Linked DNA regions of Homo sapiens. The protein of the gene in region 1 purifies or fractionates together with the protein of each later gene. This does not show direct contact. Each region holds a gene or a part of one and is shown in the gene's direction. Other genes may lie near its edges. The genes, in order: SLC26A11, PDCD4, TLN1, MAP1B, VPS39, U2SURP and BOD1L1.

Region 1 (3,532 bases):
GGCAGGAGAATCGCTTGAACCCGGGAGGCAGAGGTTGCAGTGAGCCGAGATCGCGCCATTGCACTCCAGCCTGGGTAACAAGAGTGAAACTCCATCTCAAAAACAAACAAACAAACAAAAAGTCCTCTGGGCCAGGCGCTGTGGCTCACACCTGTAATCCCAGCACTTTGGGAGGCCGAGGTAGGAGGATCATTTGAGGCCAGGAGTTTGAGACCAGCCTGGGCAACATGACGAAACCCCATCAAAAAAATAGGAAAAAATAGCTGGACGTGGTGGCGTGCACCTGTAGCTACTCAGGAGGCTGAGGTGGGAGGATCACTTGAGTCTGGGAGGTTGAGGCTGCAGTGAGCCATGATCGTGCCACTGCACTCCAGCCTGAGCAATGAGCAAGACCCTGTCTCAAAAAACAAAAAATTAAAAAAAAAAAAATCTTCCTCTGACAGCATTCCCCTGGGGCTGCGTTTCTTCTCACCATTCACTGGTATGGAGGTGAAGCCATACCTCTCCGGGAGACTCTGAGATGGCAGGTCTACCAGGCTGCCGACCCGTGTGCTACAGAGGAACATCCCTGCCCTGGCTAAAGTCTGTCTGTCTCTCAGGTCCCCGTTCTCCGTGTCCTGCTGTCCGCTGACCTGAAGGGGTTCCAGTACTTCTCTACCCTGGAAGAAGCAGGTGGGCACAGTCAGACATCCTGTGGCTTTGGTGATTTTGTAAAAATCATAAATGCTTATTGTAAAAAATATGGGAAACCAGCTGGGCACAGTGGCTCATGCCTGTAATCCCAGCACTTTGGGAGGCCGAGGCAGGTGGATCACCTGAGGTCAGGAGTTCGAGACCAGCCTGGCCAACATGGTAAAACCTCATCAGTACTAAAAATACAAAAATTAGCTGGGTGTGGTGGCATGCACCTCTAGTCCCAGCTATTCGGGAGGCTGAAGCAGGAGAATCGCTTGAACCCAGGAGGCAGAGGTTGTACTGAGCCGAGATTGTGCCACTGCACTCCAGCCTGGGTGAGAGAGCGAGACTCTGTCTCAAAAAAAAAAAAAACAAAAAAAACAGGAAACCACCTCCACCCCAGTCCACTTTGGTGATCACTCCATACCCCTCCCCTAAACACGCATATGTACCTGCCTGTCAGGATGTGGATATATGTTTGCGGTTTTACGTAAATGGGACCATTTCATACCTGGTGCTCTGGAACCCACATTTTTCATGCAGAAGGTTGGAAGGATGTCCTTCCAGCCGAAAGTCCACATCCCGGGGGATCAGGACAGAGCAGGGCCGGGTCAGGAGATCCAGAAGCCCCGGGACAGAAGGTACGGGAGGGACAGGAGCAGGGTGGGCGCTGACCCTTGAGACAGCAATCGCAGGAGGTCTGAGCCGCAGCAGGTGTCAACAAGAGGATGGGCCAGAGATGCAGAGCATCCACCCCAGGCCACACAGCAGTGGCCAGAGGGTCCCAGGCCCCAGTGCTAGGCCTCTTCCTCTTCCACTGAGGTCACAGCTGAAGCTGGGTCAGCTCCGTGAGAGTGAGGGGTGGCGGATGTTGTACTGACTTCCTTGGCTCAATGTGACGTCAGGGAGATTCACCCATGTTGTTGTAGAATCAGCTCAGATGCAGTGCACTGGAGGTGGATAAGCAGAATGTGGCCTGGCCGTGGGATGGGAGGGTACCCTGGAGCAGTAAGAAAGGGCCGTTAGTCACCTGAAAAATACGCTTACAGAGACTCAGGTGAGACCCTCATGGAGTTAGTGACACTGGCCTGGGTGGCCCACAGCTCCTTCCTGCACACCTTCCAGGACTCTGGAAGGCCCTCCTTAATCCCTTCCTGTGAACTGACCCATCCTCACTTCTGAGCTTTTAGTGCTTGAAACATTTATTGTATTTTCTGCAGAGAAGCACCTGAGGCAGGAGCCAGGGACCCAGCCCTACAACATCAGAGAAGACTCCATTCTGGACCAAAAGGTTGCCCTGCTCAAGGCATAATGGGGCCACCCGTGGGCATCCACAGTTTGCAGGGTGTTCCGGAAGGTTCTTGTCACTGTGATTGGATGCTGGATGCCGCCTGATAGACATGCTGGCCTGGCTGAGAAACCCCTGAGCAGGTAACCCAGGGAAGAGAAGGAAGCCAGGCCTGGAGGTCCACGGCAGTGGGAGTGGGGCTCACTGGCTTCCTGTGGGATGACTGGAAAATGACCTCGCTGCTGTTCCCTGGCATGACCCTCTTTGGAAGAGTGGTTTGGAGAGAGCCTTCTAGAATGACAGACTGTGCGAGGAAGCAGGGGCAGGGGTTTCCAGCCCGGGCTGTGCGAGGCATCCTGGGGCTGGCAGCACCTTCCCGGCTCACCAGTGCCACCTGCGGGGGAGGGACGGGGCAGGCAGGAGTCTGGGAGGCGGGTCCGCTCCTCTTGTCTGCGGCATCTGTGCTCTCCGAGAGAAAACCAAGGTGTGTCAAATGACGTCAAGTCTCTATTTAAAAATAATTTTGTGTTTTCTAAATGGAAAAAGTGATAGCTTTGGTGATTTTGTAAAAGTCATAAATGCTTATTGTAAAAAATACAGGAAACCACCCCTCACCCTGTCCACTTGGGTGATCATTCCAGACCCCTCCCCAAACATGCATATGTACCTGTCCGTCAGTGTGTGGATGTATGTTTACAGTTCTACATAAATGGGATCATTTTATACATGGTGCTCTGGAACCCACATTTTTCATGCAGTCATTTGCAGTGAATTATTTATTGTGATAATAAATAGCATTAGAATACAAGATTTTTAATGTCTGCGTGGTATTTTGGTCTATATATGCATCATAATTGACTTACCGAGCCCTCTGTTCAACGTGTGCGTGGGTTAGAGACGGGATCGTGCCTCCTTTAGATGTGTCAGTTGAAGCCCTTGCCCTCTATGTGACTGCGTTTGGAAACAGGGCTTTTAGGGGGTAACTAGGTTTAATGAAGGTCATAAAGGTGGGCCCTGAACCGATAGCTTTAGTGTCCTCGTGAGAAGAGACGCCAGAGAGCTCGTTCTCTGCACCCTCACACCCCAGGGAACTCCATGAGAGGACACGGCAAAACCAGGCCATGCGCCCACCAGGAAGAAAGGCCTCATGAGGACCCCAGCCTCCAAAACTGGGAGAAGATGAATCTCTGTGCTAGGCCCCGCAGCCTGGGGTGATCTGTGACGGCGGCCTGAGCAGGTGAGGACTGCCTGCATGTTTGTATTTTTATGAATGCTTTGATTGAGTCTGGGGGTAAATCCCTGGAGGCCTGTGGCAGCCTCAGAGGTGTGTTCTCCCTGCACTTTCTTCAAGAAGAATGTGGCCTGCCCTACTGAGCCTCGTTCTGCCCGTTCTGCCCGGGCAGTCCCGGCCAATGTCAGCGCAGCAAGGGGAGGGCCTCTGTAACCAGGGCTGCTGGCTGCGGGGCTCCCCACTGGACACGGGAGTGGACATTGGAGTGTCCTTCATCCGCGTCACTCTTCCAGGTCCCTTGCCTCCTCCCATTTTCCTTCCTTCCTTTCCTTCCTTCC
Region 2 (4,458 bases), on another chromosome or scaffold:
TTTTAAGATTTTTTTTTCATATCTAAAGTTGGCGGGAGTTATAGTGAAAAGTGATTATAAAGATTCACATATATTAATTTATTCTTAACAGAATTAGAGAATGATCTCACCATTTTCTTAAGTTCCCAAGCAATATGATAGCATATTAGTCTGAGGATTATACCATAGTAAGAAGCCTATAATTTTAACATAAGGTCCATTTGTTTTTGTTTCACAAAATAATACCGTTTTCTGAAGAAAAGGGCTATAAACTTATGTTAGCAAATAGTAGTACATAATGAGGAATTTAAAAGTCAGTTTCACCTTTGAGTCCCAGGAGGCTCTGTATATATCATTGTTATCCTAAAATGACATCTAACAGTAGGTTAAGTTATATAGGAAAAAATGTGCTTTTCTGTAATTAATTTATTAGGCATTTTCACTAATTTGTGCATTTTATATCTCTGAAGAGCACACTGCTAGCAACCTGATTGTAAATGACCAGAAGGACTTATATCCAACCTATGTGACTTAAACATACACTTAAGTACTCTAAACCACTATTTAAAAAATACTTCTAGAGAGATTCTGAAATCTTAATTTGGTTGCACTTTCTGGTAATATATTTTTTGAAAACTATTTTGATATTTCTTTCATATAACATTATTGGATCTGTATCACTAAGTTAATTGTCTAAAAGGTAACTGATTTCATCAAACCTTCCAGTATTAATAATTTTTAAGCCATTTTGAAACTGAGGCCTAAAATACTGAAATGCTTATGTCGTTGTACTTACTCCTTTCTGAAATGATCAGATTTTTAAAAAATGGATTTCTCATATAAATAATATTATCAAAAAAGGATTTCTCATATAAATAATATTATCAAAAAAGCTGATTTTAAAAGTTTCTCCCAAAGTCTTATTCTAGTAATTATAGAGACCTAGGTAATGAGTGGCAGATATATCTGCCTTTCAGATATGCCGTAATGTGAAAAATAACACAGTCATGTGATATTCTTTATTAACTAAAACTGTGTTGTTTTTATTTTGGAGTAGTTCTCATAATTCATTGGTAGGGAACTATCCAGTATTTATATTCCTATGTATGTATATCAGATTAATTTTGAGGCTTGGTATTCCTAAAAGATTTGGATGTGTGTATTTCTTTAACTTGACGTAAACATGTATCACAAACATATCTTTTAATTCCAATTAAAGGGGTGCTTTGGCACATGCTGAAATCTGGGATTTTTTTTTTTGACTTTGATAAATTTATCAAAAAGATTGGAACCAAATGTTAATTAGGGTAAGTTGTCTTTGAAAGTAAAGTGAACTGTTTTATTTAATGGAATTGTGTGTTTTTTGTTGTTGTCGTTTGTTTTTACAGTGTGCTTAAGTAAGTTTAATTCAGCTTAATTACATCAGTTTAAAAGATCTTGAAGCTTTCTTTTTTTCTTTTAAAAAAACAGATTCTGAAGGAAGATTTCCATTAGGTAATTTGTTTAATCAGTGCAAGCGAAATTAAGGGAAAATGGATGTAGAAAATGAGCAGATACTGAATGTAAACCCTGCAGGTAAGTAAGGATATCCTTTTTTCTTTTTTTCTTCGTTTTGAGACAGGATCTTGCTCTGTCACCCAGGCTGGAGTGCAGTGGTGTGATCATGGCTCACTGCAGTTTTGACTTTCCTGGGCTTAAGAGATCCTCCCCTATCTCAGCCTCCTCAGCAGCTGGGACAACAGGTGTGTGCCACCACACCAGGCTAATTTTTTATTTTTTGTAGAGATAGGATTTCACTATGTTGCCTAGGCTGAAATATCTTGAAGCTTGACTATGTTGTGAGGAAGCTTCAGACCATTCCATATTTTATAAAAACATGATAGAAAAACTATCTTTAAATACTCTTTTATTCATGCTGTAAGAAAACAGGCTATATTATTTTTAAAGTCAAGTTTGTGATTTTTATTTTCATGGAAATTCATTACATGTCCTATTTTTCTGCCTATCCTTTCACATTCCACATATTCCTATTCTCTGTTATATAGTACAGAATAGAGAAGAATAGTGAGCCTGCTTATTTTCACATGGGCTAGTTAGTGATTTCTGTAATATAAACTTACTGGTATCTTTGGTATCTTTCCTAACAAATAATTTTTATATTCTAAATTACCTAGGGTATTTTCCCTAATTCTCCATGGTGCTTCAATAGCATGTTATTATCATAAAAATGAACAGTTTTGTGGAATAGATGACCAAATGTGAGTAACTCAAGATAATTTAAAATGTATTTATAGTTTTAAAAATAATCTCCCAAAAAGTTAATTAGAATTGTGTAATATCTGAATAGTGAGAACAGTTCATATTGGTATACTTTGGATAATTCTTTGTCTTATAATTTTATTAATATTGAAAGCTATTTTCTGTCATTTTAAGTGTATTTCGTAACTAAATACTACATCTTTCTTTCCTCAGTGACTTAACTCACTATTGTTTACAATGTACATAGTTTTCTTTGATCTGAACAAACATGTTGAATTTGAAGCTTCTTTACCATTGTTTATTTACAGATCTTTTTAAAGTATGGTAAAAAATTGAAAAAAATTTATGTAATTAATGATCATTTCTGTGCTGCTGTATACAATAGCTGTATGAGTATGCTTTAGGGTTATAAATGGATAATATGTACCTACTTAATTGAGATGGGGATGGTAATACAGTTTAGAATATATTTTACATATAGGTAATTGCTTCTTTTCTGCACTGTCCAGTATGGTGACCACTAGCTACATGTGGTTATTACTCCTGGGCTCAAGTGATCCTCCCTCTTCAGCCTCCTCAGTAGCTGGATTACAGGCGTGTGCACCACTGTGCTTAGCCACATGTGTTTGTTGAGTACTTGAAATGTGGCTACTCTGAGTTGAGATGAAGGTCAACTATCTCAATAATTTGTTATATTGCTTGCATGTTGAGATGATATGGTTATATTAGATTAAATAAAATATATTTAAATTAATTTCACCTGTTTTTACTTTTTAATGTGGCTACTGGAAAATTTAAAATTTCTTATATGGCTTGCATTCTATTTCTATTAGAAATAGAAACACAGCTTTAAAATGTGTACTTTTTGTTTCCTAACTACAATAAGACCTAGTTCTAACCCTGTTCTTGGTGCTTGTGTCCAGCACTGCTTTAAAATAAAAGACTTGTTCTTCAATATTTGAATAGGCCTAAGATAGACCCTCTTTGTAGTAAATTCTTCACATAGCAAATAGTCCAAGTCACACTCTTACTCTTTTACTTGGAGGAAGTAGGTTATTCTGACCTTCAGTTTTTTCATGTATAAAATTGGGATATAAATACCCTCTGTATAGATTTATAATTAGGATTTAGTGAGATATTGTATATGTGTGTTAAGTCTGTGAAGCACATACTAGGTATGTAATACATGAAAGTGTGGTAATGTTATTCTAATTATGCCACTCATTGGACACCAGTAATTGAAAATGTGATTTTCTGGTGCTGTGGTCATATACAATTGGAGTGGTTACTATTGAGATATCAGAATTCAGAAAGAGGGAATTAGTACACAGTAGGAAACAATTTTGAAGTCAATCACATTCTGTACTCAGCTTATCATTTTAATTTTGGTTTTCTTAAAGTCAGCTCAATAGGGGTTATGGAACTCCAACAGTTAGGTGAGTATGAGTAACAAAATATAAAGCAATTAATACAAACATGGGTTAAAAATGATAAGGTCAAATATATAAATTATACTGAGAGAATGTTTACTGCTGCAGAGACACAAACATACTTGAAAGGATGTTAAAATTGTTGAAGAAAAGAAAACTCGATTATGGGAAATAGATGTATTTAAATTGAATACTCCAAGGGACAGTTTAAGACATTTTATTATAGTTCTGACTCCTGTGTCTTCTGGACCAGTTTTGTGGTTCACCTTAATGGCACAATGATGAAAGCACTATGTTACAGGTAGATGTTTAATGTTTTTCTCAACCATCCACTCTTACACGAAAATGTCATCTAATTTATGTGATCCTGATCTTTCTGTCCCCTTCCACTTAATCATTTTTGTTTATCTCTCTTTACATTCACGCCCTTGTTCGTCTCTTTAGCTGTCAATACTCTGCTGTATTCTAGTTTTGTATTTTCTGTAGTTATATGGGATTAAAAATGTGGGTTTGAATTCTAGCCATAATCCTTTCTAGATATGTAACTTCTTGTGAAACACATTCCTTCTGTAAAATGAGGATAAACAGTTTCTTTCTAGAGCTCTTGAAGCTTATAGACCACATATGTAAAGTGCCTTAGCTAATAGGTACCAGGTAGTGTGGAATCTAATAGGTACCAGGTAGTGTGGAACCTGGTATCTAATAGATGACAATAGTAATGGTAATGATGAAAGAAACAGTACTACGACTACTTCCACTAAGACTATAATTACTACTGATGGTTATGATG
Region 3 (4,458 bases), on another chromosome or scaffold:
GTTTCACTAAACCTCTTTGTTGTTTGTTTGGTTTTTTTCCCCCCACCTTCTGAAAATGCATAGAGGAAAAAGCAAAGCTACTGTGTATTGATTGAAGTATGAATCAAACATTAGGATGTTCTTTCCATCATAAAAATGGCTTTTTAACCCCTCCCTTCCTTTCCAAATATCTGACGCATGGAGGTGCTATAAATGTGAATTAGCCTAATAACCTTCATCAGTTTTGAACTGTCTTTAAAAGAGGCTTTGCTTGTGTGCACAAAGGTGTGTATTTATATATGGCTCTCAAACGTTTTACTGCTACTTACAGTAAGCCATACTTTTCACTCTAAGACCCAACATACACAAACATATCTAAATAGAGATTGGATAAAAACCCTTGCTATGTAGTTTTCCTTTTTATTAACTTTTTTAATCTTCTGAAATGCTTGAATATACTTAATGAAAACAGGAGAGTATTTTTTTTCTTCTTTATAGTGTAACCATTGTTTGCTAATGTATCTCCACTCATGGAGAACTCTGGAAAATAAGCCCTATTCTCTAAACTTACCTCTGCTCTCTTTTGTCCCTACTATCACTATTCATTTCCCACCTGCAATCTTTATTCCTCACCCCCACCCCCTTTTCTCTTCCCAGGCTGCATATCTGGTTGGTGTCTCTGACCCCAATAGCCAAGCTGGACAGCAAGGGCTAGTGGAGCCCACACAGTTTGCCCGTGCAAACCAGGCAATTCAGATGGCCTGCCAGAGTTTGGGAGAGCCTGGCTGTACCCAGGCCCAGGTAACTCAAGGGAACAGGGACCACAGGCGAGTCTGGGAAAGGGCAGACCGACCCCGTGGAGTAGAGGGAGGTGAGGCATGTGGGAAAGAGGGCAGGGACCCATCTCTGACCTTGCACACACAGCTTCTTTTTGGGTAACTGTCTTTTTCTGCCATGGGTCTCATCATTTATCAGTTACTGCTAAATTCACAACTTCTCTGTAGATGTTCGAGCTTACTCTCCCACATGCCCTCTTATGGTTTCTCCATTAGTATGTCTTTCCTCTCCCATGCCCAGTTCATCTTTGGGTATCTCTGTCTCCTAGATCTTGACTTTTCAGGTGACTCTGTTATTCCTGTTTTGACTCCTCAGGGTATTGCTCTCCATCCCCTGACCCTAAAATGGCTCCTCCTTGGGTATGTACACCTCCTTCCTGCCCTCATCGTGGCTCTTCCATGTGTCTCCTCAGGTGCTCTCTGCAGCCACCATTGTGGCTAAACACACCTCTGCACTGTGTAACAGCTGTCGCCTGGCTTCTGCCCGTACCACCAATCCTACTGCCAAGCGCCAGTTTGTACAGTCAGCCAAGGAGGTGGCCAACAGCACAGCTAATCTTGTCAAGACCATCAAGGTTCCCATTGCTTGAATTCCCAGCCTCTCCCTGACCTGTCCTATCTTCTCCCCCGAGTCCCCCAGTTATTCTCTGAAGCCTTCTACCAAATCCCCTCTGCCTGAGCCCAAGCTCTTTCTATTCAGACTGACCACCTAGCCTCTCCCCAAATCCTGTAAGTCCCAGGAAGGAGACCTGGACTTCACTTCCTATACCCCCTATGACTGCATCCCAAGTCCTGAGAGCCTCTCTGTCACTTCTAGGCGCTAGATGGGGCCTTCACAGAGGAGAACCGTGCCCAGTGCCGAGCAGCAACAGCCCCTCTGCTGGAGGCTGTGGACAATCTGAGTGCCTTTGCGTCCAACCCTGAGTTCTCCAGCATTCCTGCCCAGATCAGCCCTGAGGTGAGGCGATGTGAAGGGGGAACTGATGGGCCAGCTTATCACCTCATCTTCCAGGGACTCCTGAGACTTACCTTCCTGCCTCCCCTCTCCCCAGGGTCGGGCTGCCATGGAGCCCATTGTGATCTCTGCCAAGACAATGTTAGAGAGTGCCGGGGGACTCATCCAGACAGCCCGGGCCCTCGCAGTCAATCCCCGGGACCCCCCGAGCTGGTCGGTGCTGGCCGGCCACTCCCGTACTGTCTCAGACTCCATCAAGAAGCTAATTACAAGCATGAGGTATTGAGGGATGGGGAACCAGTGTGGCTGGGGGGCATACATTGTGGCAGAATGGAGGATGGGCACTTGAGTGCAATGAGATGGGATGGTGTTGGGAGGATACAGGGGAAGGATAGGCTGGCCTTGCAGTAGGGGATGTTCTTGGTGTTGGAGCCCATGATGTGTCTGCAGGGACAAGGCTCCAGGGCAGCTGGAGTGTGAAACGGCCATTGCAGCTCTGAACAGTTGTCTACGGGACCTAGACCAGGCTTCCCTCGCTGCAGTCAGCCAGCAGCTTGCTCCCCGTGAGGGAATCTCTCAAGAGGTGAGAGGGAGAGGGTTATATGGAAAGATGTGTCTAGGAAGAGAAATATCAGACTCAAAGAAGCTGGGGGATCAAGGAGTGGCTTCTTAGGGACATCAAAGGCTGGGATGTGCGAAGGAGGGTTAGGGTATTTGGTATGGACAGAAGAGCAGTTCTTTGTAGCCAGAGGGTCCTATTGCAGGTCACCATCAGGGCTAATGTCCACTTCCTCCCCAGGCCTTGCACACTCAGATGCTCACTGCAGTCCAAGAGATCTCCCATCTCATTGAGCCGCTGGCCAATGCTGCCCGGGCTGAAGCCTCCCAGCTGGGACACAAGGTACCTATGGAGACTCATGGGAAGTCCCAGGGAGTAGGGTGAGAGAGAGGGGACCTGACCCCTAGTCCAACCCCTTGCCTCAGGTGTCCCAGATGGCGCAGTACTTTGAGCCGCTCACCCTGGCTGCAGTGGGTGCTGCCTCCAAGACCCTGAGCCACCCGCAGCAGATGGCACTCCTGGACCAGACTAAAACATTGGCAGAGTCTGCCCTGCAGTTGCTATACACTGCCAAGGAGGCTGGTGGTAACCCAAAGGTATTGAGGGTTGGGAGGGAGGAGCTGTTACTAGCAGGAGGCTGGAGAAACAGGAACAACAGAGCTCCTCTCCTCTCCCCACAGCAAGCAGCTCACACCCAGGAAGCCCTGGAGGAGGCTGTGCAGATGATGACCGAGGCCGTAGAGGACCTGACAACAACCCTCAACGAGGCAGCCAGTGCTGCTGGGGTCGTGGGTGGCATGGTGGACTCCATCACCCAGGCCATCAACCAGGTTAGAGTCTTGGGGTGCCTTTGGACACTGAGGCTACCCTGGGCCAGAGCCTCCAAGCACAGTGGCAGAGACCCTAACAGTCTTTCCCTTTCCCTATCCTCCCCCCTCAGCTAGATGAAGGACCAATGGGTGAACCAGAAGGTTCCTTCGTGGATTACCAAACAACTATGGTGCGGACAGCCAAGGCCATTGCAGTGACCGTTCAGGAGATGGTGAGTTTGGGCGAGTCCCAGAGGACTGCCCTCGGAGAGCTGACTTTGGATATAACTTCACTCGTTCCATTATCACCAGGTTACCAAGTCAAACACCAGCCCAGAGGAGCTGGGCCCTCTTGCTAACCAGCTGACCAGTGACTATGGCCGTCTGGCCTCGGAGGCCAAGCCTGCAGCGGTGGCTGCTGAAAATGAAGAGGTAAACGTGGAGGCAACTCTGCCCTGCCCCCTGCCCCTTGTTCCTGATGTGTCAGTGTCTAGGGCTGTCCCACCCCCACCCTCTCTGGTCTTTCATAGAAAGGGGAACAGCCTCAGGGCCACTCTGCTGAAGACTAGTGAGGCTCTGGGTAGGGACAGAGGATCAAAGCCTTCAGTCACAGGTACAAAGGAAACAGCTCAGAATCTGGAGCCTTCCCGGGCCTGCCTTTCTGGCTTCTGCCGACCCTCATCTGGGCCTACAGCTGCTTCTCTGTTGTGCTGCCAGTCCATGTTCTTGTTCTTTCTTGTTGCAAACTCATGAAGCTCTTCCTTACCTAAGCCTCTAGCTTTCCAAGAAAGCAAGTAATTGGATCTTAGCAGGACACATGTAATGCCCATCCTTAAAACCCTCCATAACCCCATACAGGCCACATGGTAATCCACGGCCCTCTGATTCCCACATTCAAGCATAAAGTGCTCCTCCCCTTCTCCCCACTGTGCTTAACACAATCCTCACCACTTAGTGCCTGCGTGCTACTATTTTCTGTGTGTAGGAGGTGACCTTCTGCCTAAAGGATATGCAACCGGAAACGTCCTTGTGCTGGGAACCTTCTCTCTCTGCTTCTTTAGTCTACAATGCATGTTTTTTTCTATGTCCTTAGTGACTTTTCCAAGCACAGTGAAGGTACCCTGAGTGCCCCTTGTAAAATCCATCTGTCTTTCCCTTGGCTCACAGATAGGTTCCCATATCAAACACCGGGTACAGGAGCTGGGCCATGGCTGTGCCGCTCTGGTCACCAAGGCAGGCGCCCTGCAGTGCAGCCCCAGTGATGCCTACACCAAGAAGGAGCTCATAGAGTGTGCCCGGAGAGTCTCTGAGAAGGTGACG
Region 4 (4,458 bases), on another chromosome or scaffold:
AGGTATATATCTCAGTCCAGTGTGGCCTTAAGGCTTGGAAATAGCTCAGTGTATGGTTCAAAGCAGCTGTGATTCATCACTGGGATTCCTGATTTTGTGCCGTTTTCGAACACAGCAACTACAGCCCTGTTCTAAATCTTCAGAACCAAGGATGTGTCTTTCAGGTGCTTCTGGAAGACTGGTTTCAGCCATACTGGCCTCAGAATCCAGCAGGGTAACACAGGCCAGGAGCTCCCAAAGGCCTAAGGAGAACCAGAGGTTTCACATCAAGACTGGATCAACCAGTCTAGACCCAAGATTTAGAGTCCTTTTTTAAAAAAAATTTTTTTTAAATTAAAAATGTTTACATTTTTATTTAAAACATCACCAGGTTGGAGATAAATCCTCATTAAAGGCAGTGTTCCATTTTCTTATCAGCCAAAAAATACTATAATTTCAGTTGACCAGTGAGTGTCCGGTGAAAATTGAGAGAAAAACATTGATGGCTCTGCTCTTACCCTTCTCTTACCCCATGGCCTCATTAGTAGAGACTCAATGCTATTTCAGATTAAAATTCCACTGGGAAGCTAGATGCATGGCCTCATGCCTGTAATTTCAGCACTTTGGGAGGCTGAGATGGAAGGTTAGCTTCAGCCCAGGAAGTTGAGACCAGCCTGTGCAACATAGCAAGACCCTGTCTCCACAAAAAAAAAAAAATGTTTTTTAATTAGCTGGGTGTGGTGGCACGTGCTTATAGTCTTAGCTACTTGGGAGGCTGAGGCAGGAGGATCACTTCAGCCCAAGAGATCAAGGCTGCAGTGAGCCAGAATTGTATGTATCACTGCATGCCAAGCCTGGGTGACAGAGCAAGACCCTGTCTCTCAAAAATAAATAAATAAGCAAATGAAATGCCACTTGGCAAGAGCAGGTATCCCTGATTTTTGATCATTCATGTTTTTGGTCATGATTCTCAGATTTATCAGGTTCTCAGCAATGACCTGGGCTTTTGATGGAACTGGTCTATGGCAGTACTGCTTCATTTTGTTGCTTCACATCAATCACAAGGATTGGCATTCATACATTTTATTTGCTTTAGGTAATTATTCAGAGATTTTTAGATCACAATTCACAAAGTAATGTAAATGGACCCAAACATGTAAGGCACAACATAATTTAAATAACATTGCCCTGATTTATTAGGGAAAATCTGATAGAGTAATCTTTGGAGCTCTCCAATTAAGTACACTTTAGGATACATTTGTTAAAACTGCAAATTTTTACTTTAAACAATATGGAGTATCAATTTTAAGGCTCAGTTCTCAGCACATTTGGCCTTTCTACATGCACATAGAAAATAATCGGAATTTTTTCATGTTTAAAATGAATGAAAAACCACCAGATAATTAACCCTTTCATCTGAAAGAGTTGACAACTGACCTGCACTTAGGAGAAAACATGAAATCCATTTAAACAGATAAAACCAACTGCAAATTTGCCAGAACATATACATCCTAGCCCACACAATTTTTAAAAAAACTTTTTTTGGACATTTAAAGAGGTAATTTAAAGGCAAAGTAATAAGTGAAAATGAGTTAATTTTCATTTATTTTGGAGATGCTTTTAGATGTCTAAAAAGGCAAAGTTGCAGTACTAATTGACTTTTAAAGCAAACCTGGGCAGTTCTGTCAGTTTGTGCTTCTGTGAGCAATATTCATTTGATGTTGATGGTAGTGATTTAGAGTAGAGGGCGAAATTGGCAGACATGTTTAATTACTGGAAGAACTGTAACTCACAAACTTCTAGTACAAGTCAGAATTCTTTAGGAATTCTTTGGATATTTTGAGGGCTTTCGGCTCAGATTCATTAAAATAAACTATTGATCTATTCATAGAATGAATTAGCTTATCCAATTATTACTTTGGCTGATTCTCACCACTCCCTAACCTCTCTAAAAATAAAACTGTACAGTTGATAGAATTAGCTGGTGGTTTTCAATCTGGGATGATAGTCTTTAAATATCCTATGGAGAAAGAGGATTAAGCATGTAAAATCTAGCTGGTGTTTTAATTGGCTTTACAGCAATGAAACCAGCTGCATATTAGAATCGCCTGGGGTGCTTTTAAAAGACAGTAGTTCCAGGCCCCAACCCAAGCCCACTTAAGTCAGACTCTAGAGAATGAGGCCTGGGTGTCAGTATTAAGCATCCGAGGTGATTCTGATTATATAGTCAGGCTGAAGAACCACTGCCTCAAAATGCTAGTTCTATTAACATTTCAAAAGCTTTAAACTTCCTAACTGGAACAAGTTAGTTTTCCCAGACCTTTGTGATTTGACTGGGGGTTTTGGTTGCAGTCTGATATGTCCTGATTAGCTAGAGAAAGCCTAGTCTTTCTGAACCTTCCTTTGCCCAAGTTTGGCATCCAGCCTTGTCTAGGGAAAGAAGTATCACTTTTCAGAATACTGTGCTAAGGAGAGAATATGGTGTTTCATCAGTTTATGAATGAGATGGAGGTGCTGAGGGCCTTGGAAATCATATGGGGTTAAGATCAAAACTATTTGCTAGGTAGAATGTTAGGGTATAATATCCAGCTGTGGACAAAATTGCTATCAATGAGACCCTAAAATAGAGCACTAAGATCACTTAGCTATGTTTTGCCAAATACAGACGTTTTCTTTTGACTTTTAAAATCTACTTCTTAGATCACTTATCAAATAAAGAAACACATTAACAACTTCTTTAGGAGGAGTATTATATCTAGTGCCATCTTGGGAAAGGCCTTCAAACTCTTCTTGCTTCCTAATATTGGTTGTCCACAAAGGGAAACTATCCCATTCTTCATTTCTCCTATTGAGGTGGTAAACAACCATGTTATGTTTTGTCACATTGCTAGCGTAAATGCCCTTGACAGATTACCAGGGAGATGGAAATGCTGTCACCACTTTGCATGTCTCAGAGGACCTACTTGTGATTGAATAGGGAAGGTGTGATTGAGTGGGGAACATGTGCTGGATGTATGGTCTCTTCACCTTGCTATGACCTTGCTTTGTCTTTGTTTATTTACCCAAGGACCAGGAACTACCAAGACGACCAAGTCATCTGCTGTGCCCCCAGGCCTCCCTGTGTATTTGGACCTGTGCTACATTCCTAACCACAGCAATAGTAAGAATGTTGATGTGGAATTTTTCAAGAGAGTGCGGTCTTCCTACTACGTGGTGAGTGGGAATGACCCTGCTGCTGAGGAGCCCAGCCGGGCTGTCCTGGACGCTTTGTTGGAAGGAAAGGCTCAGTGGGGCAGCAACATGCAGGTGAGAACTCCTCGACAGTGTCTGCACTGCCGATTGAGCTGTGTCCAGAGGCAATGGGAAGGAACCATGTTTAAAGAGGCACCTCATGTGGCTGATCGTGGATCCACATGAGGTGCCTCCTGTGTCTGTCACACACGAAATATCCTGAGAACAAAGTCAGTTTAACACACAGTAGGTAGTCTGAAATAATATTCTTGGCACCACCACCAACCACGGCCTTGGAGGAAAGACACCTTAACTAAAGCAGAAACCATTTATCTGCAAAATGGGCCTAAGATTAATTGCCCTTCCTCCAGTATGCCAAGAGTCTTGTGTGTGTGAATCAAAGCGGTCATATTTCCATATGAGAGCTCCTGAGGAATTGCCTTTCTTCCTTTGTGTTTTATGAGTAGACTGCGGCTAGGAATATGGCCATTTAGAAAAACAGCTCTCCATGTGAAATTCCACAGCAGGAGCATTGCTGAATATAGTCCCTCACAGGACACTCCCAACTCCCAAACATCATGCCTGACCACAAACCATCCCTTATTTATTTAATGACAGGGTCTCCCTATGTTGCCCAGGCTGGTCTCGAACTCCTGGCCTTAAATGATTCTTAGAACCAGCTATTATTAATTCAGCTGTGATCTTTGCTTATCAAGTTTTATTTGTGGTTCTGTACAAAATTACCTAGTAAATTGTGCTTGTATCATATTATATAGAATTACTTGTTATTTAATCATATGAAATCTAATGAGAGGCACCCAGTGGCTCCCTACTGAATGCTAGATGGAATTTATACTATTCAGGACATTACTTACCCACCCCATACCTCCATCCCCAACCACACACATAAAGTAAAGGTGCAGATCTTTGTTCTCAGGACAAAATGTTAGTTACTCACAATGAGTGGGCTTTTGAGGGCTTTGAAGTGCGCGATAAAATCCTTGGATTAAATATGCAATATCTTTTATGCAAAACTTACCAGTTGTGTTAAAGGAAATACAAAAAATTGTACCCTAACGGAAGCACTTCTCTTAACAGTAAAGAACTGAGAAACTGATTAATTGCTTTTTGGTTCCAGCCTTCAGTTTCCCTTAGAAACAATAGCTTTTCTTTGCAGCTTTATTCTGGTTCCTGGAAAATATACATTGAAAAATCCTTTGCATTTCTTGAGGAAAATAGAAAAGTTTT
Region 5 (4,458 bases), on another chromosome or scaffold:
TGACTAAAGCCAAAAGCTTTGGAATCGTTCTTGACTTCTTTCATTCTGTTTTACACTGTATCCCATCTATCAGCAAATCTTGTGTGTTCTACCCCTAGAATAAATCTGAAATCCAGTCATTTCTCTCTATCTTGATGATTACTACTCTTGAAGGCACCATCATCTGTCACCTGAATTACTGTAGTAGTCTTCTCATTGATCACCCTATATTTGCCAGTGTGCCATTTTCAGTTTTTTGTCTACCAGGTAGAGTGAAACTTTGAAAACCTAAATCTGATTCCATCCTCTACTCAAAACCCTCTCATGGTATCACATCACAACTAGAATAAGTTCCAAAGTTTTCACCCTGTCTGGCAACATCTGACATGATCAGGCCCTGATTTCTTCCCTGTCTTCTGTGTACTTACCTCTCACTCCTTTCTGGTACCAGTCCCACACAGCCTTCTTTGTTCCATCAATGCACAAAGCACATACCCACCTCAGGGCCTTTACATTTGCTGTTTCCTTGGCCTGGCACTCACTTGCCTTTGTATATATGGTTCATTCCTCATTTCACTCAGTTCTCTGCTGAAATGTCACCCAAATCAGCAAAACCTTCCCTGTGTATCCTATATAAAAGAGATTGCCACATCCACCAATGTGCTGTTTTCTTAGCCTTATCTTCTAATCATGGGTCACCATCTACTGTTATTTTATATATTTAATTATTATTGCCTCTCTCACTCCACATTAGAATATAAGTTCCCTCAGGGCAGTATCTTTGTTTTCTGCATTGCTATATCTGCAGTACCTAAAACATTTCCTGACTCAATGGGTATTCATTAAATATATATTTAATGAATAATGTTAATATGAATAGTAATAGCTTGCAGTTGTTAAATGCTAATCTGTATTAGGCTTTTATAAAATAAGACTCCATTTTACAGAAGAAAGACCTAAGGCTTAGAAAATTTAAGAAATTTTTCCAAGGTCACATGTCCTGTAAATCATGTCTGCTTCTAGAGCCTGGTTCTCAAACTTGAATGTATATTCAAAGCCTGTAAAAAATGCAGACTTCACATGTATATATGAGTATCTGTATGTCTATATATACATACATACCTATATTTTCCAGAGAAACAATGGAAAGATAAGTCAAAAATTACTAAAATGATGCCCATAGCAGAAGGGAGAAGAGAGGATAAAATGGACAATGATAGAAACTAGACTTTTCGTCGTTTTAGCTTTGGAACTACATGAATGTTTCATAAAAACAAATAAAATTTAATTTAATTTTATTTTATTTTATTTTATTTCATTATTATTTTTTGAGACTGAGTCTCGCTCTGTCGCCCAGGCTGAAGTGCAGTGGTGCAATCTCAGCTCACTGCAACCTCTGCCTCCCAGGTACAAGCCACTGTCGTGCCTCAGCCTCCCGAGTAGTTAGGATTACTGCCACCCACCACCATACCTGGCTTATTTTTGTAGTTTTAGTAGAGACGGGGTTTCGTCATGTTGGCCAGGCTGGTCTCAAACGCCTGACCTGAGGTGATCCGCCCACCTCGGCCTCCCAAAGTGCTGGGATTACAGGCGTGAGCCACTTTGCCCAGCCAACAAGATTAAATTTTAAAATGTAAATTTCAGGGTACCACTTCAAAGCCATTGAATCTGAATCTCCATGTGCAGGGCCCAGGAATGTGCATTTTTAATAAGTCCAGGTGATTCTAATGCAGCTAATTGGGGGCTTATGCCCAGATGAGAAGTACTGTTATTTGCCATGTTACCCAACGAAGGGAAGTGACTACTATCTTACTTATCTTTGTGGTCCCTGCAGTGGCCAGCATTGGGCCAGAAATGGAATTTATTACATGAAGTTGGACTGCATTGCACTGTTGGAAGGAGCTCCATTAGGGTAATTATGAGCAATAGGGCCTAGCCCTCCTTCTCAGGAGGAATTAAGTCCAACCTTGTGGCTCAGGGTTAGGCCGTCAGGAGTTTTTTAGGGCTGATACTGCTTTGCTTATGTGTGCGTTTTGTGTTTGCTTAGTATGTCTCACTTTCTGTTGTGTGTTACTGTATTGAGTCTCAGAAGGCACTGTCCATCCCATGCTGCGCGTGCTCTGCAGGCTTGTCATCCTCTGTGTTGTGCATGCACAGCTTTGTTAAATAACGTGTCCTAGAGAGTGGAGGACCCAACATGGGACAGGTCCTCTGGCTAATGGCACATGTAATCAATCAGGTTGATTTAAAAGTTTACAGAGAATTTAATCCATCGGATTGATTCCCTTTTATGACCAGTAGAATAGACATTTTATTTTTTTAATTAATTTTTTTTTTGGAGGCAGAATTTCACACTTGTCACCCAGGCTGGAGTGCAATGGCGCACAATCTCCACTCACTGCAACCTCCGCCGCCAGTGTTCAAGTGGTTCTCCTGTCTCAGCCTCCCTAGTACCTGGGATTACAGGTGCTCACCAGCACACCTGGCTAATTTTTTTTTTTTTTTTGAGACAGAGTCCTGCCCCGTCACCCAGGCTGGAGTGCAGTGGTACGATCTCAGCTCACTGCAGCCTCTCCCTCCGGGGTTCATGCAGTTCTCTTGCCTCAGTCTCCTGAGTAGCTGGGATTACAGGCACACACACCACCATGCCTGGCTAATTTTTTTTGTATTTTTAGTAGAGATGGGTTTCCACTGTGTTGGCCAGACTGGTCTTGAACTCCTGACCTCAGGTGATCTGCCCGCCTTGGCCTTCCAAAGTGCTGGGATTACAGGCATGAGCCAACCACACTCGGCCTAATTTTTATATTTTTTAGTAGAGACGGGGTTTCACCATGTTGGCCAGGCTAGTCTCAAACTCCTGACCTCCAGTGATTCGCCCACTTCGGCCTCCGTGCCCGGCCCCTAGACATTTGACTTTTTAAAATGTTTTGTCATGTCTTAGTTTGGGTTCACAAGAAAAAAAAAAAGTAAATTAAAAAATCTATTGGCAAGAAACATTTCAATAAAAATGGAAAATAGACTCTTGAATGTCATGTTTAGGAATTTGACTTCATATTTTGGTAGTGTAGCTTCACAGGATTTTTTAAGCCCCAGTGTGACAGCATCAGAGATCTGCTCTAAGATAACTGACAGCAAATGCGAGAGAATGCATGGAGTGAATGAGACCAGTTGAAGGTGTCACAGGGGTCCCCAGAGAGACTCTATAGGAGGAGGCTGTCATGAGGTACCATTACAGGTAGAATTGATAGACCCTGGCCGACTTGGGAGGAAGCTGAGGCTATTAAAAAAGATAAAGAAAAGCAGGAACTGGCAGGGATTTGGGGGACAGAGTGGAGAGAGAAGGATGGGGAAGATGATGAACATTATGTTGGCCTTTTGTTTTGGTTGTAGATTTTTATGTATGTTATGAGTGGATTTTTAAAAAATTTCCACTTCATTTTATTTATATCTGAAATATCAGTGGGTGGCCTAAAAATCAACTTTAATATTGCTAAATTGCTTGATATCATGATATCTATAAAGTTCTAAATATAGTATCTTTTACAAAACAAATATTGCAAAATGAATTCTTTTATTTTTTCATGTTCTGCTGCAGCATAAATCTCCAGCCTTCATTAGAGCTGCTGTTATTTCTGATTTCAACATTTTTTTTGTGTGTGACCTGCCTTTCCTTTAAGACCCCAAATCAAAGAAAATAGAATCACTCTGTTTTTCTGGATGACTAAGAACATCATCCTGGAGAAATACTATTGATCCTTTGGATAAGGAATGTAGGTGCTGACCTGTTTTTATAAATATAACTACTGCCATTCAGACAACCTTTGGCTGACACCCATTTTTTTTGACATGGGTGCCTTAGTAAGTACATCACAGCATGTGGTTGGGAATCAAGACAAATTGGGGTTGGGATCCCAACTCTGCTGCTTGCCACATGTGTGACTCTGGAAAAGTTATATATTCCCTAGGCCTCAACTTCCTCATCTATAAAATGGGGATTTGAAAAAAGGACTTACTTCAAGGGATAGTTGTGAGGATTAGTGAAATAACAGATGCGTTTAGCATTTCCTGGAACACAATACATGCTCAATAAAAGTTATCTATTTGTACCATTATCCAAGATTTTATTTTACAGAGGTCAAGAATCAAGAGAGTTTATGAAAGGAATGAGTGACCTTTATGTTATCAAAAAGCTAAGGAAGTATCTGTACATGCTTACCTTCCTTGAATGATGTAATATGGGTCTGTCAGGGTAATTATTTAAACTCTTTCTGAGCCTCTTTTTACCTAGACCAGTGCCTCCCAAAATGTGGTCCTTGAACCACCAGCATCAGCATCATCTGGGAAGTTGTTAGAAATGAAAATTCCTGGGCCTACTTTTAAACCTACTAAATCAGATGCTCCGGGGTAGAGCCTAGCATTCTGTATTTTAACAAACTCTCAAATAATTGTGATACACTAAAGTTTAAGAACCACTAGCCT
Region 6 (4,458 bases), on another chromosome or scaffold:
CCCGCCACCGCACCTGGCCAATTTTTTGTATTTTTAGTAGAGACGGGATTTTGCTGTGTTAGCCAGGATGGTCTTGATCTCCTCTGACTTTGTGATCCGCCCGCCTTGGCCTCCCAAAGTGCTGAGATTACAGGCGTGAGCCACCGCGCCCGGCCGACTTCAGGAGATCTTTAGGCATCATTGGTTTGTGTTCTTCAGTTAAAAATAAAAAGCCAAACTCAAGACAAAGAATACAGTTCAGTTCCAGGTTAGGAAGAGGGAGAAGCTCAGCTTCTGAAGTAGTGCTATATTTACTGTTTACCTTGACTGTTATCTTTAGAAGTTGATGATTATTTTAAAAATTGTGTTAACTGCTGTTTGAACTGTTAAAGTTCCGTGCTGAATGCTATGTAGCTGTAGGTATGTATCAGTGGAAAATGTCTGGTTTGCAGTAAATGTGATTAGTGACATCTTAAGCTAACTGAAATCAGCTGGTGCATTGTCCTACACCGGTGCATTGTGCTACACTATGCTGTTACTGCTCTGTTTGCAAATTTATCAAATTGTGTAATTTTGAAAGCTGACAAAATTGTTACTTTTGAACTGATTATTTTTGTATTAGAGATTATTTAATTTGGTGAATGGTTACGCAAGTGAGATCCTTGAAGATTATAGAGCTTCATCTTTTGATGACTTGGAGTCAGGGAAGAGTTAACTATATGGAAATAGGCAGAATGCCTAGGTTCTTGTATCTTTTGTTTTTAAATCCTAGAAATGATGATTTGGATGTGGTGGCATCAAAGACTACAGAAAGGGTAGCGCTTTCTTAGTTATTCTTTTGGATGCTTATTCTTTCTGGGTGAACTTTAGAATTGTTTTGGCAATTCTTTTGCCCCCTTGCAAATATTTCCCTTTGGAATTTAGAGCGGTTGAATGAAATTGTATTAAATATGTAAAGAAATTTAGGTGTCATTGACATTATCTTAATATTGAATTTTCCCATCCAGTAATATGAATCTTTTGAAAAGGTGGCTTGAGTAACTGGATTTTTCTCGAAGTTTTTGTTTTCTTCACAAGGGTTATATACATTTCTTAAATTGGTTTCTAGATGTTTTTATATTTTTTGTTGCTTTTATGATTAGGATGTTTTTGTTGCTTAGCAAGTTAATACTGGTGTATTGGAAGGCAATTGAGTTTTTTTTGTTACTATTGTTTGTTTTTGATATGGAGTCTCTGTCGCCTAGGCGGTAGTGCAGTGGCGCGATCTCAGCTCACTGCAAGCTCTGCCTCCCGGGTTCACACCATTCTCCTGCCTCAGCGAGTAGCTGGGACTACAGGCGCCTGGCTAATTTTTGTATTTTTAGTAGAGATGGGGTTTCACCAGGTTTGGCCAGGATGGTCTCCATCTCTTGATCCACCCGCCTCGGCCTCCCAAAGTGCTCGGATTACAGGCGTGAGCCACTGCACCTGGCCCAGGCAGTTGATTTTTTTCAGTCCCTTCAGCCTCTTGCCTGAACTTGTTTTTCTTTTGTAAGAGTAGTTATTTATTCTTTTGGATTTTTAAATTTCTAGATATTTGTAAATTTATGCATTTCAAGATATGTTTCAGGGTGTGTTTCATAGTTAATAAATACTAAAAATTTTCTTTTATACCACCTTGACATTTAAGAAAGATTAGCCGCTAGAAGAAAATCAGGGTGGACACAAAAGTTGGGGACAGAAAAACCATGGACAGAAAGAGTGAGATGGGGCCGGGTGCGGTCGCTCATGTCTGTAATCCTAGCACTTTCAGAGGCTGAGGTGGACAGATCACCTGAGGTCAGGAGTTCGAGACCAGCCTGGCCAACGTGGTAAAACTCCGTCTCTACTAAAAATACAAAAATTAGCCAGGCATGGTGGTGCGTGCCTGTACTCCTAGCTACCCAGGAGGCTGAGGGAGGAGAATTACTGGAACCCGGGAGGCGGAGGCTGCAGTGAGCCGAGGTCGCGCCACTGTACTCCAGCCTGGGAGACAGAGTAAGACTCTGTCTCAAGAAAAAAAAAAAATGAAAGAAAGAATGAGATGGGAGGGGTCCCAGTGCTTGGTTGTCCTGTTGTCCTGGGCTGATTTTTGCCTATGCTAATGCGCAATACAGTGGAGTTCAGAGGAGTAAATTGATTCAGTGTAAAAATCTTACCAGCTGTTCTTAGCCTTATGTCTGGACAATGTAAATAAAACAATACTGTATGGATCTTTGCTCTTTTTTAAATAACATGAATCTTCAGTTTTTCTCTTAAACTAATATTTTATCTTGTACTTTATATGACATCTTGTCTGGGAGTTGGGGTCAGGTGAGATATTTGTGATCTCAATATTCTTGATTTCATTTGAACATTTGACACTTAAATATATAAATAAAAACAAGTAAAATTTCACTACCGTATACCCTCAAAAATAAAAACAGCTCAGTGACAGTTATATTTTGGATCCCCAAGTAAAAATTCTTGGAGAATCTTTCTTTCAGAAAGATAGCATACATTATTTAGTTAATCGTCCTACAGCTTGTCATCTTTGTCTTTACATGTGTAGTGGCAACAAGTTATTGCATACCATGTATAATCTGATAGGTAGATCACTTAAGAAAAGTTGAAGTTTTAACAGTTGACATCACTGGAAGATATTATATGAACTCTTTCTCATGCCACCAGGCAGCCTGTGACATGCTATCGAATCATCTCCCTTAAAACGAGTTGTAAATGGTGCCTTATTGGGGATTTGATAATATTTTCTGGAACTTTGCAGAATTTGTACCTTTTAATAGACAGCAAGGATTTATATGTGGATTTCTTTATGTGGCTTTGGGTGATTAGAGAAAGAGAGTTCTCGTGCTGTGGACCAAGAAGTTGCTGGGCAGTGCTGTGGCAGTAAACGATGCATCTATGATTAGGAAGAGCTTTTGCATAAAACTGTGTAAAAATGGTGGTTAGGTTTCCAGTGTATACTATAAAGAGGTAATTTTGCCTCATATATATCCCACTAGTGTTTATTATATTTTTGGAAATATGCAGGCTGAATTTTAAAGAAATGACTTACACATTTACTTTGTATCACAATCTTTTCATAAGTCAGAGACTGCCTTTGCTCAGTTTTATTAGCTGAGGAGAAATTGCCAGAAGTTAGGAAACTCTTAAGTTTGTATAACACGAGAGACATGTTTTGTTAGTATAAGACATTTTAAATTATTGACTTTTATTTTTGATACTTGTAGACGAGATCATCAGATGTTCATTCATCTGGATCTTCAGATGCACATGTGAGTATAGAAGGCAATCTTTGTCTTTTTTCCTTTAAAATTTAACTTCTCCTCATATGTATCCCTACATCAATGATTTTACTTGACAAATAAATACAATTGTATGTGCTTTTTTCTTTTACTCTTTTTTTTCTAGGCGCCTTCCTTTTTTTTTTTTATGTTCTGCTTGCATAACTTAGCCCTCTGAAGCGATGTTAGAAACCTAGTATGTATATTTCCTTATGATTTTTATTGTGTAAAAATCTGTACATACATAACGTATCTATACTTATACTTTGACTATGGGATTGCATTATGCATATGCCTTTCTCACCGCACAAAACATATGTTGGAAATCCCTGCAGGTAAACTGTTAACAGCTCTAATCTGTTCTTTCTTAAGGCATCATAATGTTCTGTGGTGGGGAAGTGCAGTTGTTTGTTATTTCTTTGTTGATGGGCATATATTTTTTGTTTAAAGCTTTCAAGTAACATTTTGGATAGATAATACTACAATAAGTATTTTTTTAATATATGTTATTACAGCAGTGTTCAAAGTGTAGTCTGAAGACCCCTGGAGTCACTGAGAATCTCTGAGAAGGGTCTGTGAATTCAAAACTATTTTGTAATAATACTAAGGCATTATTTATGCCTTTTTCACCATTTTGGCATTTGCACTAATGCAAGTGTAGCTGGAGGTACAAAAGCATTTGGTGGGTAAACTGTTGGCACTTCAGCACAGATCAAGGCAGTGACACCAGAGTATACTTGTAGTCATTATATTCTTCCCCACCAGGCACAATAATTTCACTTAAAAAACTAGCATAATTAGAAATAATTTTTACTGCTTGATGATGCAGTAAAAGTTACTACTATTTTACTACTTCATCAAGCAGTAAAAATTATTACTATTGTCTTCATCTTTTGTGTAGTTCGTCTTAATATTCTGTGTGATAAAATAAGAAGTACGTATAACACTTATGCTTACCAAAATGTGATGTTTGTTTGAGTTGAGAAATGAAACTAGCTGCTTTTTTCATGAAACACCAGTTTTACTTGGGAGTGACTGACAGGCAAACTATGGTGAATCAGACTTGGGGATTTTGGCAGACATTTTCTTGAAAATGAAGGTAACGAACCTGTTACTTCAAGGAAAACAACTGTTACCAATATAAAATTCAAGCTTGTGAGTTAGAGTTATTGAAAAC
Region 7 (4,458 bases), on another chromosome or scaffold:
TGCATCTCACCAGTGCTATGCAATAGGTTGATCATAGGAAAGTGCCCAAATTTGACCATTTTTGAGGTAATTTCATATATTTCCCAAAATGTGTTCTCTCAAACCCTATTGTAGCCAGAAACCTCTGAGAAAAAGAGTACCACGGTCAGATGAGTTTGGGAATGTCATTGAATTCTCTCTCCTTCCTCAGTTACATGTTCATTAAAATATTAAGGGTTTGGCAAACTCCAGGGCTGGGCGCGGTGACTCACGCCTGTAATCCCAGCACTTTGGGAGGCCAAGGCAGGCGAATCACGAGGTCCGGAGATCGAGACCATCCTGGTCAACATGGTGAAACCCCGTCTCTACTAAAATACAAAAATCAGCCAGGCATGGTGGTGAGTGCCTGTAATCCCAGCTACTCGGGAGGCTGAGGCAGGGGAATTGCTTAACCGTGGGAGGCGGAGGTTGCAGTGAGCTGAGATGGCTCCACTGCACTCCAGCCTGGTGTTAGAGCAAGACTCCATCTCAAAAAAAAAAAAAAAAAAAAAAAAAAGGGTTTGGCAAACTCCTAAAGGAAAGAAGCCTGTTGAACTTTGTTTAAACAAGCATTATTTGCTGATACCACTTTTCTGTTGTTGGCCTATATCATTATACCTGTTCACATCATCCAGTGTTCCTTTCCCCATGGCACATTTGAGAAATGGTACATAACTGTATTGTCTCATCCTAACCGTTAATCACTTTCCCAAACATGAATATTTTCCAGGCTGAGCACGGTAGCTCATGCTTGTAATCCCAACACTTTGGGAGACCAAGATGGGAGGATCACTTGAGCCCAGGAGTTTATGAGACCAGCCTGGGCAACACAGGGAGACCCCATCTCTACAAAAAAATTAGAAAATTAGCTGGGCATGGTGGCATGCACCTGTAGTCCCGGCTACTTGGGAGGCTGAGATGGGAGGATCGCTTGAGCCCAGGAGCTTGAGGCTGCAGTGAGCTGTGATCGCACCACTGCACTCTAGCCTGGGTGACAGTGAGACTCTGTCTCTGAAAAAATATATATTTTTTTAATTTTTAATTAATGTGATTTACAAGCTATTAATCTTGGTATCATCTTGTTTAATTTCATTATTCAAGATTGATCAAAAAGTTCAGGAAGATTTATTTCAAAAATAACACTAACAGCATAATATAATAGTATCTTGTGTTTACATAAAGAACTAAAATCGGGGCTGGGCACAGTGGCTCACACCTGTAATCCCAGCACTTTGGGAGGCTGAGGCCGGCGGATCACGAGGTCAGGAGTTCGAGACCAGCCTGGCCAATATGGTGAAACCCCATCTCTACTAAAAATATAAAAAATTAGCTGGGTGTGGTGGCACGTGCCAGTAATCCCAGCTACTTGGGAAGCTGAGGCAGGAGAATCGCTTGAACTCGGGAGGTGGAGGTTGCAGTGAGCCGAGATCACGCCATTGCACTCCAGCCTGGGTGACAGAGTGAGACTCCCCGTCTCAAAAAAAAAAAACAAAAAAAAACAAAAACTTAAAATCAATCTGTTTCTAATTCCTCCAGACTTAACACAGTATTAGCCATTTGTGCCATGGTTTGATTTCTCAAAGAATCAGATTTTAGAGCCAAAGGACTCTAGAAGCTCACACGGCTAAAGTTATAAGGTGGTCTCATATTTGTTTTTTTAGGTGGAGCAGCTCACATAAATAGAAAAGAAGTCACAGAATCCAAATTGCTGCTGCTAGGAGAGGGTGAGGGTGCTGGAGCCCAACACCCATGCATTTGGGTATAGCATCCATCCCACCAGAATTACTGCTTCCCTTTAAAACAGTTGTGGAAAGTAGGGCTCAACTCAGAGAAAGTTCCATAGGCCTTCTAGCCATCTTCGAGTGAGTGTCTAGAAATTGCTCTCAGATTTGCCTTTTATAAATTCTTTAAAAATAAATCTTATTTGATTTATATGGTTCTGTAATCACCTGGATTATCAAAGCTCTTCCTTCATGCACTTTATAATATAAACTTTTGATTTACAAATGAGTTGTTTTCTCTCTAGTTTAGATTCCTTGGCATTGGTTGATCAGTCCCAGGGCTCTGGTGTCTTCATAATTTTACAAATTGTCTGAGTTGGGTGGGCTCTCAGTGGTCATGTAGTACCAATAGCCAGTCAGTGCCTGAGTCACTGCACCTGCAGCTCCTCTGAAAGGGTCTTCCTGCTTTTGCATGGACCTCAGTGGCAGGGAAAGCCACATCCTCCTTAGCATTCTCTGACTTGTGTTCAGTAGAAGCCGGCCTCCCTGTGGCTTCTACTCTTGATTCTAGTTCGACTTTCAGAACCTTCTGTCTAATTTTGCCTTACATATTTGAGGGCAGCTTCCAGGTCTTCTCTGCTTGCTTATTGAGCCCCTTCATCATCCCTGTTTGTGCTCATCAGTTACCTTTATCCTCTTTTAGAAGCAAATGTGCAGCTGGGCGCAGTGGCTCATGCCTGTAATCCCAGCTACTCAGGAGGCTGAGGCAGGAAGATTGCTTGAGGCTGGGAGTTCGAGACCAGCCTAAGCAACATAGCAAGACCCTCTTAAAAGAAAAAATTAAATTAAATTAATAAAATATAAAAGAGGCCACGCACAGTGGCTCACGCCTGTAATCCCAGCACTTTGGGAGTCCAAGGCTGGTGGCTCACTTAAGGCCGGGTGTTCAAGACCAGCCTTGCCAATATGGTGAAACCTCATCTCTACTAAAAGTACAAAAAGTAGCCGAGCATTGTGGCAGACTCCTGTAATCCTAGCTACTTGGGCAGCTGAGGCAGGAGAATTGCTTGAACCCGGGAAGTGGAGGTTGCAGTGAGAAGAGATTGTACCACTGCACTCCAGCCTGGGTGACAGAGCGAGGCTCTTTCTCAAAAGAAAGAAAGAAAGAAAGATAGATAGATAGAGGCTCTTTCTCAAAAGAAAGAAAGAAAGAAAGAAAGATAGATAGATAGATAGATAGATAGATAGACAGACAGACAGACAGACAGACAGATAGATAGAAGCAAACTCTGTATACCAAGTGTGGTCTAATGAATCCAGAAGAGGACTGTTCTACCTTATTTTCTGGATATTGTTCTTCAGTGTGCATCCTCATTACTGAGCCTCAAATTGAAAAATACACCAGCTAAACAAGTTCCTTTTTCAGAGTTTTTACTGGAATCAGAATTCCTTATCTGATTCTTGTGCAGTTGACTACTTGGGCCTTAACACTTAGCCTTGTGAATTGTACTTTCGTTAATCTTGGCCCTTTATTCTACCCTGATGAGCTCTTTTGTAATCTTTATTTTGTCGGCCAGTATATTTTCTATTTTTCGCAGATACATCTTTTTTCTAAATCACAATAAAATATCATGCACAGTAAGAACAAAGATAGTGTCACACAAGCAGAGGTAGTTGTAGATGACATTAAGATCGACTTATCAGCAGTGGTCAGGAAAACCAACCATTTTTCTGATTTTAGTTCCTATTGTTCTGACTTGCCCACAAGGAGCCTCATACTTCCTACAGAGTTCCAGGGACTGGAGTATTCAGTGCTACCATTGCCCAGTGTTTCTATAATCTGTTTCAGAAAGCAACATAGCAAGCCATCTGCACGTGCAACATCCAAACTTGGCAGCCCAGACACAGTTTCTCCTAGAAATCGCCAAAAATTAGCAAAAGAGAAGTTACCTACCAGCGAAAAAGTTAGTAACTCTCCCCCATTAGGAAGGTAAGTCCCTGCTTACACTTCAAGCCATTTTTAACCCCCTAAGACTATTTTTGGTACAATAATGCTTTCTTCCTAATTTCCTTTAAGATTTTGTCTCACCAAATAACTGTTTTTGGGGATCATTGGTTTCCAAGAAGAACAGGAAGGGCTGCAGAAGGTGTCTGTGTGGCCTCACCAGTCTGGCCTTGCCGCAGTGGACTGCCACACAGGCTTGTCCTTGACACCTGTGAGCCTTATCTGCCTTCTCCCATCCACCAAGACCAAAGGCAAGGCAGTGTGGTAAAGCATTTAACAGCCCAGAATCATTTCTGTTTTAGCTAGAGCATTGGAGAGGTGATGAGGTGATAAAGCTTCCTCTTTCAGGCACGGCCCCTGCCAGCTTACACCTTTCACTGCAGCCTTACTGGTCTTACTGCTTCCCAGAGGTGGTCCTGAGCCTTCCTTTCTTGCCTTTGCTTGAGCCAGTGAGGAGTGTCCTCACCACCAGCACCCCTAGTAAGTCAGATCCTTTCCGTCCCGCTTCAGCCCATTTTCATCTCTTCTTGCTGCACTTCTGGTCAGTACTGGGCACTTGAGATGCCACATAGCATTGGTTTGGTATATTCCTTTTATTTACCCCTCTGAGCTCTAGGTTTCTTTCTTGAGATAGGAATTTGTCATACTTTCTATACATTATCATATTCAAAAATAAAAGACTCTTCACTGTACACAAAAACTGTTTTGACCTCT

The links.
Region 2: the proteins of SLC26A11 (region 1) and PDCD4 purify together in Homo sapiens (affinity purification with mass spectrometry; one large-scale study listed by BioGRID and IntAct). This does not show direct contact.
Region 3: the proteins of SLC26A11 (region 1) and TLN1 purify together in Homo sapiens (affinity purification with mass spectrometry; one large-scale study listed by BioGRID and IntAct). This does not show direct contact.
Region 4: the proteins of SLC26A11 (region 1) and MAP1B purify together in Homo sapiens (affinity purification with mass spectrometry; one large-scale study listed by BioGRID and IntAct). This does not show direct contact.
Region 5: the proteins of SLC26A11 (region 1) and VPS39 purify together in Homo sapiens (affinity purification with mass spectrometry; one large-scale study listed by BioGRID and IntAct). This does not show direct contact.
Region 6: the proteins of SLC26A11 (region 1) and U2SURP purify together in Homo sapiens (affinity purification with mass spectrometry; one large-scale study listed by BioGRID and IntAct). This does not show direct contact.
Region 7: the proteins of SLC26A11 (region 1) and BOD1L1 purify together in Homo sapiens (affinity purification with mass spectrometry; one large-scale study listed by BioGRID and IntAct). This does not show direct contact.

What each region holds. Positions count from the first base shown.
Region 1 is NC_000017.11:80,250,730-80,254,261, forward strand, and holds the end of SLC26A11 (sodium-independent sulfate anion transporter), read left to right. Parts: intron 1-599; coding exon 600-672; intron 673-1,895; coding exon 1,896-1,987; 3' UTR 1,988-2,771; downstream 2,772-3,532. UniProt on the Homo sapiens protein: Sodium-independent anion exchanger mediating bicarbonate, chloride, sulfate and oxalate transport.
Region 2 is NC_000010.11:110,874,517-110,878,974, forward strand, and holds part of PDCD4 (programmed cell death protein 4), read left to right. Parts: intron 1-1,449; 5' UTR 1,450-1,511; coding exon 1,512-1,554; intron 1,555-2,153; exon of another isoform or gene 2,154-2,227; coding exon of another isoform or gene 2,228-2,237; intron 2,238-4,458. UniProt on the Homo sapiens protein: Inhibits translation initiation and cap-dependent translation. May excert its function by hindering the interaction between EIF4A1 and EIF4G. Inhibits the helicase activity of EIF4A. Modulates the activation of JUN kinase.
Region 3 is NC_000009.12:35,704,663-35,709,120, reverse strand, and holds part of TLN1 (talin-1), read left to right. Parts: intron 1-636; coding exon 637-780; intron 781-1,228; coding exon 1,229-1,390; intron 1,391-1,632; coding exon 1,633-1,773; intron 1,774-1,867; coding exon 1,868-2,049; intron 2,050-2,220; coding exon 2,221-2,353; intron 2,354-2,569; coding exon 2,570-2,671; intron 2,672-2,754; coding exon 2,755-2,925; intron 2,926-3,009; coding exon 3,010-3,159; intron 3,160-3,269; coding exon 3,270-3,371; intron 3,372-3,450; coding exon 3,451-3,570; intron 3,571-4,305; coding exon 4,306-4,452; intron 4,453-4,458. UniProt on the Homo sapiens protein: High molecular weight cytoskeletal protein concentrated at regions of cell-matrix and cell-cell contacts. Involved in connections of major cytoskeletal structures to the plasma membrane.
Region 4 is NC_000005.10:72,200,517-72,204,974, forward strand, and holds part of MAP1B (microtubule-associated protein 1B), read left to right. Parts: intron 1-3,046; coding exon 3,047-3,285; intron 3,286-4,458. UniProt on the Homo sapiens protein: Facilitates tyrosination of alpha-tubulin in neuronal microtubules. Phosphorylated MAP1B is required for proper microtubule dynamics and plays a role in the cytoskeletal changes that accompany neuronal differentiation and neurite extension.
Region 5 is NC_000015.10:42,201,501-42,205,958, reverse strand, and holds part of VPS39 (vam6/Vps39-like protein), read left to right. Parts: intron 1-4,458. UniProt on the Homo sapiens protein: Regulator of TGF-beta/activin signaling, inhibiting SMAD3- and activating SMAD2-dependent transcription.
Region 6 is NC_000003.12:143,007,588-143,012,045, forward strand, and holds part of U2SURP (U2 snRNP-associated SURP motif-containing protein), read left to right. Parts: intron 1-3,227; coding exon 3,228-3,272; intron 3,273-4,458.
Region 7 is NC_000004.12:13,571,973-13,576,430, reverse strand, and holds part of BOD1L1 (biorientation of chromosomes in cell division protein 1-like 1), read left to right. Parts: intron 1-3,588; coding exon of another isoform or gene 3,589-3,729; intron 3,730-4,458. UniProt on the Homo sapiens protein: Component of the fork protection machinery required to protect stalled/damaged replication forks from uncontrolled DNA2-dependent resection.